Regions from separate parts of the Homo sapiens genome. Here region 1 is linked to region 2. The links come from fine-mapping of genetic effects on gene expression. A gene starts in region 2. The other region holds a variant in brackets. All regions are shown on one strand. Distances are from middle to middle. Region 1 has its middle 22 kb from the start of PROK2. Region 2 holds the start of PROK2 (prokineticin 2).

Evidence for each region.
Region 1: its variant is fine-mapped to the expression of PROK2 in whole blood (INTERVAL, PIP above 0.99).

The regions. Positions count from the first base shown.
Region 1 is chr3:71,804,588-71,809,968 of GRCh38, forward strand. No RefSeq gene overlaps it. Among named protein-coding and RNA genes, the nearest start is that of PROK2, 22 kb to the left of the region's middle. The variant C/T (reference allele first, on the strand shown) is at 2,381.
Region 2 is chr3:71,782,138-71,787,518 of GRCh38, forward strand. PROK2 (prokineticin 2) reads right to left here and starts at 3,011. Exons shown (of 4, transcript NM_001126128.2): 1 at 2,820-3,011. The coding sequence starts at 2,915. LOC105377156 (a long non-coding RNA gene) reads left to right here and starts at 3,253. Exons shown (of 4, transcript NR_199161.1): 1 at 3,253-3,386; 2 at 3,499-3,610; 3 at 3,800-3,896; 4 at 4,080-4,290.

The sequences.
Region 1 (5,381 bases), 22 kb after region 2:
CGGCTCACTGCAACCTCCATCTCCCAGTTTCAAGCAATTCTCCTGCCTCAGCCTCCCGAGTAGCTGGGATTACAGGTGTGCAGCACCACACCTGGCTGATTTTTGTATTTTTTGTAGAGATGAGGTTTTGCCATGTTGGCCAGGCTGGTCTCGAACTCCTTACCTCAGGTGATTCACCTGCCTTGGCCTCCCAAAGTGCTGGGATTATGGGTGTGAGCCACCAAGCCCAGCCAAACCCTTATTTTTTTTAAGGAGGTTGTGCACACTGGTTCCCCAGAAGCAAAGCATCAGGTAATGTTAACTTCGGTTATTGCAAATGATGGCTGGAGGTCTGGGGAGAGGGATTGATCATACTGGGCACCTGCATCTCCTGTGCAAATCTCTCCTGGGGCCTCAATGCTTACGCAGTTTGCTCCATACACCCTTGGTTTGAGTGGACCCTCCCCTGGCTCACAGGCTGCCTTTCATTGTTCTGGGTGCTCTCAAGCAGTGATGCCACTGTGGGGCATGGTGCCTGACCCCTAGAGCAATGCCTCCTCCAGGCCCCAGAGAGCTCTCCCCTGAAAAGTCAAGGCTTGAAAGAAGGAAGCCTGCCATTGGCTGAGAACTGGAATTATTACAACCCCCAATGCTGGAGGTGGGACTTGCGGGAGGTGATTGGATCATGAGGGCGGGTTTCTCATGAATGGTTTAGTACCATCCCCCCTTGGTACAGTATAGCGAGTGAGTTCTCACAAGATCTGGTTGTTTAAAGCTGTGTGGCACCTCCCCCATTTCTCTCTTCCTCCTGGGGTGGCCATGTAACATGTGCCTGCTTCCCCTTCACATTCTGCCATGATTGTACATTTCCTGAGGCCACCCCAAAAGCAGAAGCCAGTATGCTTCCTGTAAAGCCTGAGGAATCATGAACCAATTAAACCTCTTTTCTTTATAAATTACCCAGTCTCAGGTATTTCTTTATAGTAGTGCAAGAACAGACTAATACACCCATTCTTGACTTTGGAGTTAGATTAGACTTCTGAAGTTCAAATCTCGACTCTGCTACATTCAAGCTGTGTAACTTTGGGCAATTCACTCAATCCCTCTCAGCCACAGTTTCCTATTTCTCGAATGTAGTTTCCATGAGGGACTGGGTCTTGGTCTTTTCCTGCTGTTGCTATATTCCCAGTGACAAGACAGTGCCTGAAGTATGGTAGGGGCTTCATAAGTATTTTCTGAGGAAATAAATAAGGGTATTTGTGAAGGCTGATGGAAATGATGGGTAGTATCTGGCACAAAGCAATCACTTAATAGTATCTGAGTGACTATCTGGCACAAAGCCAGATCTGGCACAAAGCAATCACTCAATAAATGCTAGCTATAAATATATAAAATATACATATGAAGATGTAATTTTATTTTATTTCTTATATCTGGTAACATAGTTTCTAACCACAATGTAATGTGTTAGAATTCATCCTCTCTCATGCCTGTAATCCCAGCACTTTGTGAAGCTGAGGCGGAAGGACTGTTTGAGCCCAGAAGTCGGAGACTGCAGTAAGCTGTCATCATGCCACAGCACTCTTGCCTGGGCAACAGAGTGAGATCCTTTTTCTAAAAACTAACAAAACAAAACAATTATTTCCAAAAATTTAAAACTTAAAAAAAATTAAAAATTGAGAAGTTTTTTAAAATATGAAAAAAGAGGCATCTCCATATTTTCTGAGAGCAATAGTACATTGGTGAACACTGATTGCCCCGCATCCATTCACTTGTGTCTTTCTTCCTAACACAACTCCGATTCTGACCAAGTATAGCTTAGAAGAATGTGACCCGAGACTCTAGAAGTAAATCTTTTTTTTTTTTTTTGAGACAGAGTTTCACTCTGTCGCCAGGCTGGAGTGCAGCGGCACAATCTCGGCTCACTGCAACCTCTGCCTCCCCGGTTCAAGCAATTCTCCTGCCTCAGCCTCCCAAGTAGCTGGGACTATAGGCACCCACCACCATGCCCGGCTAATTTTTTGTATTTTTAGTGAGACGGGGTTTCACCATGTTGGCCAGGATGGTCTCGATGTCCTGACCTCGTGATCTGCCCACCTCGGCCTCCCAAAGTGCTGAGATTACAGGCGTGAGCCACCGCGCCAGGCCAGGAGTGAATCTTAAGGAGGCTATTGGCATGTGCCATTCCCCCATCACCTGCCTGCATGACTCATTGGTCCTGTGACTAGGACTGGTTCAATCAAAATGAAGGAAACATTTATATTACACACTTGGAGATGTGGTTTTTCCATTTTTGACCAGGTAGTTGAGAACAAAGAAGTATGTAGCTCCAGTTGCCACTGACAACTGTCTTGTTATTATGAGGCACTTGGAAATGAGGCTTACAACATCATGAGAAAGA[C/T]GGAGAGAGTCAGTTATCTGACGACATCTTTCAGCTACTGATGGTGCCACTCCTTCCAGTTAGGTAAGATAATACATTTCCTTACTGTCTTATTTTTTATTTATTTATTTTTGAGACAAGGTCTTGCTCTGTTGCCCAGGCTGGAGTGCAGTCGTGTGATCTGGGCTCACTGCAGCCTTGACCTCCCAGGATCAAGTGATCCTCCCACCTTAGCCTCCTGAGTAGCTGGGACTACAGACGTGTGCCACCACGTCTGGCTAATTTTTGAAGTGTTTTATAGAGATGGGGTTTCACCATGTTGCCCATGCTGGTCTCAAACTCCTGGCCTCAAGCAACCCTCCCTCCTCGGCCTCCAAAAGTGCTGGGATTATAGGCATGAGCCACTGAGCCCAGCCATTTCATTATTATTATTATTATTATTATTATTATTATTATTATTATTATTATTAAGACAGGGTCTCATTTTGTTGCCTAGGCTAGAGTGTAGTGGCAGCAAGAGGGCTCACTGAAGCCTCAACCTCCCAGGCTGAAATAAGCCTCCTGTCTCAGCCCCTCATGTAGCTGGGACTACAGGCATGCGCCACTACACCTGGCTAATTTTTGTACTTTTTTAACAGATAGGATTTCACTATGTTGCCTAGGCTGGTCTCCAACTCCTGAATTGAAGCCACCCACCTGCCTCGGTCTCCCAAAGTACTGTGATTATAGGCTTGAGCCACCATGCCCAGCCACCTTATTTTTTATGTCATTTAGGATGGGTTTTTCCAAGCCTTACAGCCAGAAATATACTACCTAGTGGGCTGCAAAATTATGTAGGAGATGAAACTAAAAATGTCTTCTTCGAATAATAATAGTAATGGTAGCCAATGCCTTCTTCAGCACAGTGTCAAAACATATGCCAAGCCCTTCAGCTATATTAGCTATTTACTCTCTCAACAATCCTATGAGGTGGAGACTATTATTTACTTCATGTTTCACATGAGGAAACCAGGTATATGTCAAGTTACATACATACACACACACTAAACCCAAAACAGGTCAGTGGAAGAGCTGGGATTTGAACATAAAGGTCTAGTTTTGGAACCAGACTTATACCTACCCATGAAACCTAACCATTTCCATCAATAGATGAATGGATAAAGAAACTGTGGTATGTATACACAATGGAATACTAAGCAGACACAAAAAAGAATGAAGTCATGTCTTCCATAGCAACATGGATGGAACTGGAGACCATCAGCTTAAGTGAAACCACTCAGAAATAGAGAGATAAATACCACATGTTTTCGCTTATAAGTGGGAACTAAATAATGTGTACACATGGGCACAGAGTACGCAAAGACAGACATGGAAGACTTGGAAGGATGGGGTATGGAAAGAAGTGTATGATGAGAAATTTCTTAACGGGCGTAATGTACATAATTTGGGTTGATGGATACCCTAGAAGCCCTGACTTCACCACTACAAAATCTATACAAGTAACAAAATTATACTTGTACTCCATAAATTTTTACAAACAAACAACAAACCCCTACCCATTAAACTATACTTTAAAGTATTTACTTCTATGAAGATTCATAGTGAGAAAGAAAAAAATGGAATGTAATATGCTTCAGTTTTTTAAAAAGTATACTAAAGCTTTCATAGACAAAAATTGAACACTTGCAAAATTTTCTTGCTTGTGTACCTTTTCCAGGGAATTTGTCTCCTTTTGAAAACATGTATTCGTTTATCCAATCAAATATTTATTGGACACTACGTGTCAGGCATTGAAGCAGGTGCTAGAGTACATAGTGAATAACTTCCTGCCAGGTGGAGAAGACAAACAAGTAAACAAGAGGGATAAGCCCTTTCCCAGGAAGGCACAGTGTGCCATGGGCATCTAAACATGGTACCTGAACCAGTCTGATGCAACAGTCGTCTAAAAAAATGCTTCCCAGGTGAGACCTAAGATTTCCCCAGGAAAGCGGTGAGAGGTCATGTCCAAAGGCCTGGAAGAGGAAAGAAAGAATGTGTCACATCTGTGACACTGCAGGCGGTGGTAGCTAGGAAAGGGTTCAGTACATAGAAAGAGAGATGAAGTCAGTGATGCAGGCAGTGGCCAAGAAGTTCAGCTCTTGTCTAAGGCCAGGTCCTCCAGAAAGTAGAGCCTGAGTCAAAAACTAAAGTGCTAACAATTCCGGAGGTGCAAGTCCAAGGTTTAAAAGGTAAGTTAAAAAGGGAAGTATCGCAAATAAAGAAGCCAAGCATGGTGAGGAGACTGTCACACACTGCTGTGGGGCCACCATGTTACAAGGAGCTGAAAAGAGGCATAGCAGGTGGCTTAGCAGGTGAGTCTGCCTGGGACATGGGACTGCTCTGGAAAGGCTGTGGGAAGAAACCCTGTCTTTTAGTAGGCCATGAAAATAGAAAGAAGGAGGAATTAATCTGCCCAGCTCATTCTACCTCTTGTTTTCCCTTATTTAGGGAGCATCCATGGGGAGTTAATTTCCCCACACTTCTGGGTTGCAGCATCTGGTGCTTGGAGGCTGCCCAGGAAGCCAGATGTCATGCTCCATCATGCGACATTTCATCCCATTCTGGAAGTGGAGGGATGACTCAAAGCAGAGGTTGGTGTGTAGACTCAACCGGCCCACGGCTTCAACTTGGGCCCCAGGCAGCTTGGGATGTTCATCCATGGCCAAGCTGAGCTTCTTCAGAAATGAAGAAATTGAAAGAATCTGCAATGGTACATAGGTTAATGTCCGATAGTCTTTTTCCCTGAGAGAAGCTATAAAGAACATCAAGCCTAGGACAGCCCCAATCAGATGAAGAGCTCAGACGGTTCATCCTGGCTGCAGGGTGGAGATGGATTGAAATTAGCAAATCTGAAAGTGTGTCTGTCACCCTGTGGCCTGGTCTAAGGGAGTAAGAATGAGGATGAAGCCAGGTGGATAGATCTAAGCAATATTAAGGAAGTCAGTTTCACTGTATTTTGTAATTAAGAAGATGAGAAGCGTGA
Region 2 (5,381 bases):
CAAGAGACTTGACGTTTCTCACACCACTGACTTGCTTTTTCACCATTTTCTCTTTAAAGAAGTCTCATAGTTTGAAAGTGGACAGACCAAGATGCTTGCCTTATGTTACTCTTCCTTCAGGTGAATAAGCTGCAAAGAGCAAATTACTGGCTTAGCATAAACATATATGTACATTACAAAATCAGCTAACAATCCTGTAAGATCCATCAAATTAAGAAATGCAAGTAACAGGTGCAATTGTCAATAGTAATTACTCAAGTCACCTGCTTTCAATATAAAAGTTGTAAATACATACAATGAAACAATCAACTATGGAGGAATTTCCATACTCTAGTAAATAGAAATAAATAATAAAATCTAAATCTATTTGCATGAAAATGGATCTGAAGAACTATTATTCTTTCCTAGAACCAACAAAAAATAGAATGCTTTGTTTGAACCGTGGGCAGTAATCTGTTTTGGTAGTGATAAGATAAAAACATCCTGTACTATATATGTAAGAAACTAAAACCTCTATCATCTAGGCACAAATTTAAATGTACAATTAGTGGAAACAACTAAAACAGTCCTTCAAAATTCTTAGTTTTGAGGACAGTCATAACTTCTCAAGATATAAAAATATGGGTACATTCTTAACATTATTTCTCATTAAAAGTAACCAACTATTTTGCTTTAAAGTTCATTTACTTCCCTCATTAGAATTTATTTCTCAGTCTATTTAAACAAAGTATCTGGATAAAAGCTAAAAATTTCACCTTGAGGTGTTTGGATTTTATAGGACAATATGTAAATGTTTCAATTTTCCAATTTTTATCTGCATGCCAGAAATCATGTATATGTAGCCATTACATCCCATAAATAAGATGTCTAGTCAATGATCTTTTACAATATAGTTTTAACAAATCTATGTGGGCATATAAATCAATTTCAAAATACCTACATACACTACCCAAAAAACTGTGGATGTCAGGTGAAAGTTTTAGCCAGCATTTTATTTCAACAGATGCTCAATACCTCGAATTTTGAGGCCCCATGAGCTTTTTTTTATGAACCAATCAAAAATCCAGCCAAAATCTTTTAAAATTCAATCACCTGGATGTTTAACATGCTATACACAATGTATCTTGATAAGTTACTGAGTTTTTCATTTGAATCCAGATGGTTCCTGTCATGGAGACATAACTACATTTTATTGCCCTGTTGCTTTAGAGACATTTTTAAAATTCTCTTTTTGTAACACTGAGTTAAAATAACAACAACAAAAACAGCACACATAACTATATAATAAGCCCAGTCTAAGCCTCTCTAACAGATAGACAGCCAATGTGATAAAATTTTATTTTGTAACAAAAGCTTCAGTTCTTGGAAAATTTACAAAGAGTTGCATAGGTTTATATATTTTTAATTAGACAGCTGTTTCCTAATGCCCTTCATCCTTAACCCATTGCAAATCTATTCAGATAGTGTTGTCCTGTGAATGGAACAAAAAGATACTTATATTGCAAAGGGATCTTGGGCTCAGAGGATTAGGAGAAACTTTAAATGAGCCAGCAGGAGAAGAGGGAGAAAAAAATCCAATCATGTTTCAATTCTCATGTATTAGAAAGACCTGCAAAAAGTTTTTCTCAACCACATGGACTGGCAAAGCTATGCAAGTAATTTTTTGAAAAAATCTCTTTTCTAATAAATATCACAGAGCTTACAGTTAAATATCTGTTGGATATATACAAATGCTGTCATAGCAAAAGGACTTTCAAAATTCTATAAACCTAATAACTAATATAGAGAAAATAGAGCTTGATTTTTTCAAGACAAAGATACTTCCTTTAAAGTCAAATGATATTATCTATGTATCAACATTTCAAACATAGACGTTTTATTTAAATCCCATTATGTGCACTTAAATATTTGAAGTAATTTAATGAAGGTGTGAAATAATTCCTCACTTAAAAAACAGTAAAGAAGTTGAACAACCAGGAAATGATAGCAGTTTTGCCTTGTTAATGTAAACTAGACTATTTAGTATTGTACTGCAAACCCAATTTTTTCAGATCCACACAAAATTGTTGAGAGTGGGAGAGAACTGAACTAGTTCCTACTTACAGAAAAGATGAAAACATCGTCTCTAAGTTTAAACATCTACACAGCAACCTACTCCATCATTATGCTGGAGCACTGGAGGTGCTTTGCCAGGAATTAGAAATTTAAAACTTTTATGGGGATACCTCAAGACCCTGAGCGCGGGGGAAAGCCCCGGAACCCAGAAGGAAGCTCCCACAATTGCTTTTCAAAGCGCTCACATGGCCCTGGACCAAGCGATTTCAAAGGGTTTCTGCGGAGGACGCATCGGGGAGCAAACTCTTTGACTGTAGGATTAAGACTCTGGGCACTTGGGGAATTCGTCTTGGTCCTTTGCATTTCAGGAAGGGGCCGTCAAATTTTAAGGTTCGAGGTTGGAGAGCCTCCAAAAGTACTTGAGAAGACTCAGAGAGAAACTTCTTTCAGCCTAACAGAAGAAAAATGCGAGGAGTGAGGCCGTGGGTGATGAGGGAGAAGTAAGCGGGAGAAGGTGGTAATAAAGGTGGTGGGCGACATCCTTGTCACTGTTTCTTCCAGGACGCGCCCAGTGTCCCCAGCCGTCTGCTGCTTTTGGATCTGGGTATTTTCCCAAGTGCACCAAGGGGCGACAGGGGCAGGTGTCCCCGCCCAGGGCGACCCTCCCTTTGCCTCTAGCCTGCCCTTCAGGGTCCCCGTCCCAAGCCCCCTGGGCACATCCCAGGCGCGCATCAGGGGCAGACAGGTGCGCCCGGGCCGCTTACCCCGGTGATCACGGCGGCGTCCCCAGCGCGGGGCGTGAGCAGCAGCGGCGGCAGCAGCAAGAGGAGCAGGAGTGGGGCGCAGCACAGGCTCCTCATGGCGCCCTCGGGACTGGGCGGCCGCCGGAGGCAGTTGGGGGCGCGGGGCCCGGGTGCGCTGGGTGGAGCGCGGAGCGGCGGGCGGACGGGCGCGGCGGCTCCCGCGAGCCTCCGGGCCGTTATAAAGGCTAGCCCCGCCGTGACTCACGCCGGCGCCCGCCCGGCAGCACACGCGGGGGGCACGGCGCGGGCACACACCCCACGCCCCACGCGCACACGCGCGCCCGCCTCGGCCCGGCCGGCTCCCAGACGAGCACGTGCTATGCGCGGCCCCCCGCGCCCCCGCCTCGGGCGCCACGCAGGCAGCGCTCCCGGCGGGGCGCCCCGCTCTGCGCCGTTCCCTCCGCCGTCGCCCAGCCACCGCCTTTCGCACGCGCCGGAACCGCTTTTGTGGTCTCCGAGACACTCATTTGCTGTCCTGGTTTCCAAAGCTCCACGTGCTCAGCGCCGAAAACTTGCAAATCATTTGCTGTACAGATGTTTAGGGGTCGCCTACTACGTGCGGGGCGCTGTGGACACATAGGGGGCGGGGGGTGGGTGAGGGGGACACAGCAGCCCCTGAATCCATTCGTTTGTTCAGCAGGTCTATACTGGGCGCCCGCTGCGTGCCAGGTACTGCCACCGGCTCTCTCCTCACGGTGGAATAACTTAACAGAGAAGACAGACATCAATCAAATACCCTGGAAACGTGGAAGGCAGGGGAAAGAACAAAGGGAGAGCAAAATCGCCCCAATCCCACATCACCCGCGACGTGAAAGGATTTGTCCTTCCAGCTGCGGGACTCCTATTTGTTTATTTCAAGTCAGAGGCCTTCCCTTTATGCCCACATCTGTTCCCGACCCTCTCCTCTGATTTTCCTCACATGTATTTCCTCCCCTCTTCAGCCCCGCGCCAGCTCCAGGCACAGCCGTTCAGGGTGATGCCAAAGGGAAATGAGAACGCCTGGTTTCGAGTGCCAGCCTGAGGCCCCTTAAGCCCTAGGTACGCAGCTCTCTCTTCTTTCTTAAACTTTCCAGCCCAGGAAAATCACCCTTCGGTTTTACAGATGCGATAGGGCGTTATTGTGATTCCTTCATTCACGTAAACATGAATTGAGTGTCTAGTGGGTTCCAGGCACACCAGGAAAGAATAAGTGACAGATTTGCCCTCCATCTCTCATCCTAGCCTGGCTCCAAAAACTGCAGCCTGTTTCCCTCAACAAAAATGACGTCAAGAATACCTAGATGTGACCACACCGAACTTGCTTGCCCGTTTTGGGAAACCCAACTTTCTTCCTGAATAGTCAGAACCTCTGGCTTTCCTGGTCTCTTAAGAACCGCAAACTATTGAAAAGCAGATGCGTCTTTCAGCCTCTTTAATAAATGCAGTAAGGAGAGTTGGGACAGAGTTACTTTCAGACTGTGGGGCTCCCCCGTGCCAAAGCATTCAGACGAAATGTGGGGGATAGCGGGGGGAAGGCAGGCAATTATCTGAATGTTAAACAGCTGAATATTTGGAAACCCCAATCTTTGGCTGATTTTTAAAAACCTTTTTCACACGTGTTCTCATGTTTAAAAAACGCCTTGAACAGAAAACACAAAAGGAGTCAAACCCTTTTTTCAACTTAAAAAAATGTTAAAATTGGACTCACAGTGGAGTAAGTAGAAACAGTAGCAAGTGACAGACTTGTGGAAAGTTTCCTTTTCCAGTCTCCATGCCAACGCTAGCTCGGGAATGCTGCCGGGTAAATGTAAAAACCAGTCAACATGGATTTTAACATTCCTATGACTTTCTTTTAATGGTCTATTTCATATTCGCTACTATTGAATGCCAGCTTGGGTATTCCCTGCTTCTTCAAGCATAGAAAATATGATATGTCTACACAGGAAAAATCAGATTTCAAAAGTGGCTGGCTTCTTACACAGCTGTTTGGAAAACAGTCCTCATAAGGCTGTTTTGAAACAAGTTTAAAAAAAAGAAATAAGTTTGGAAACACTTAAAAATAGGGTTGTTTAGTTTCATGTTCTTTTGGAAATTTTAATTGCTTTAATGCTTTAGGAGAGAAATGAAGGCTCTTGATATGTCATCTTTGTATCTGAGGCCAAGTTTGAAAAATGAAGTCTGACTTCAATTGTTATAAAGGGAAAAATGAAAAAAAAAAAGAGTTTGGATTAGTCCATTAAAAAAGGTAGTTGGGACAACTTAGCAACAATGACATAGAAATGAAACAGTAGTTTATTGATTCTTTTCTATTACTGTAACCTGTTGATATTGCCACATGATCACTTCTGCCCAGGCATAACTGTATTAGGTGAAATGAGCCTTGTGTGTGTAAAGTGTAGCCTACCATATTCCAGCAGACCATCAAGGCTCAGCTTAAACGAAAATGCAATCTAGGAGCGTCTATAGAACCCAATGTTTGTGAGACAGGCTGATCAGGATTGGAATCCTGTGTGACCACTGGGCAAGTTACACAACCTTTTGAAG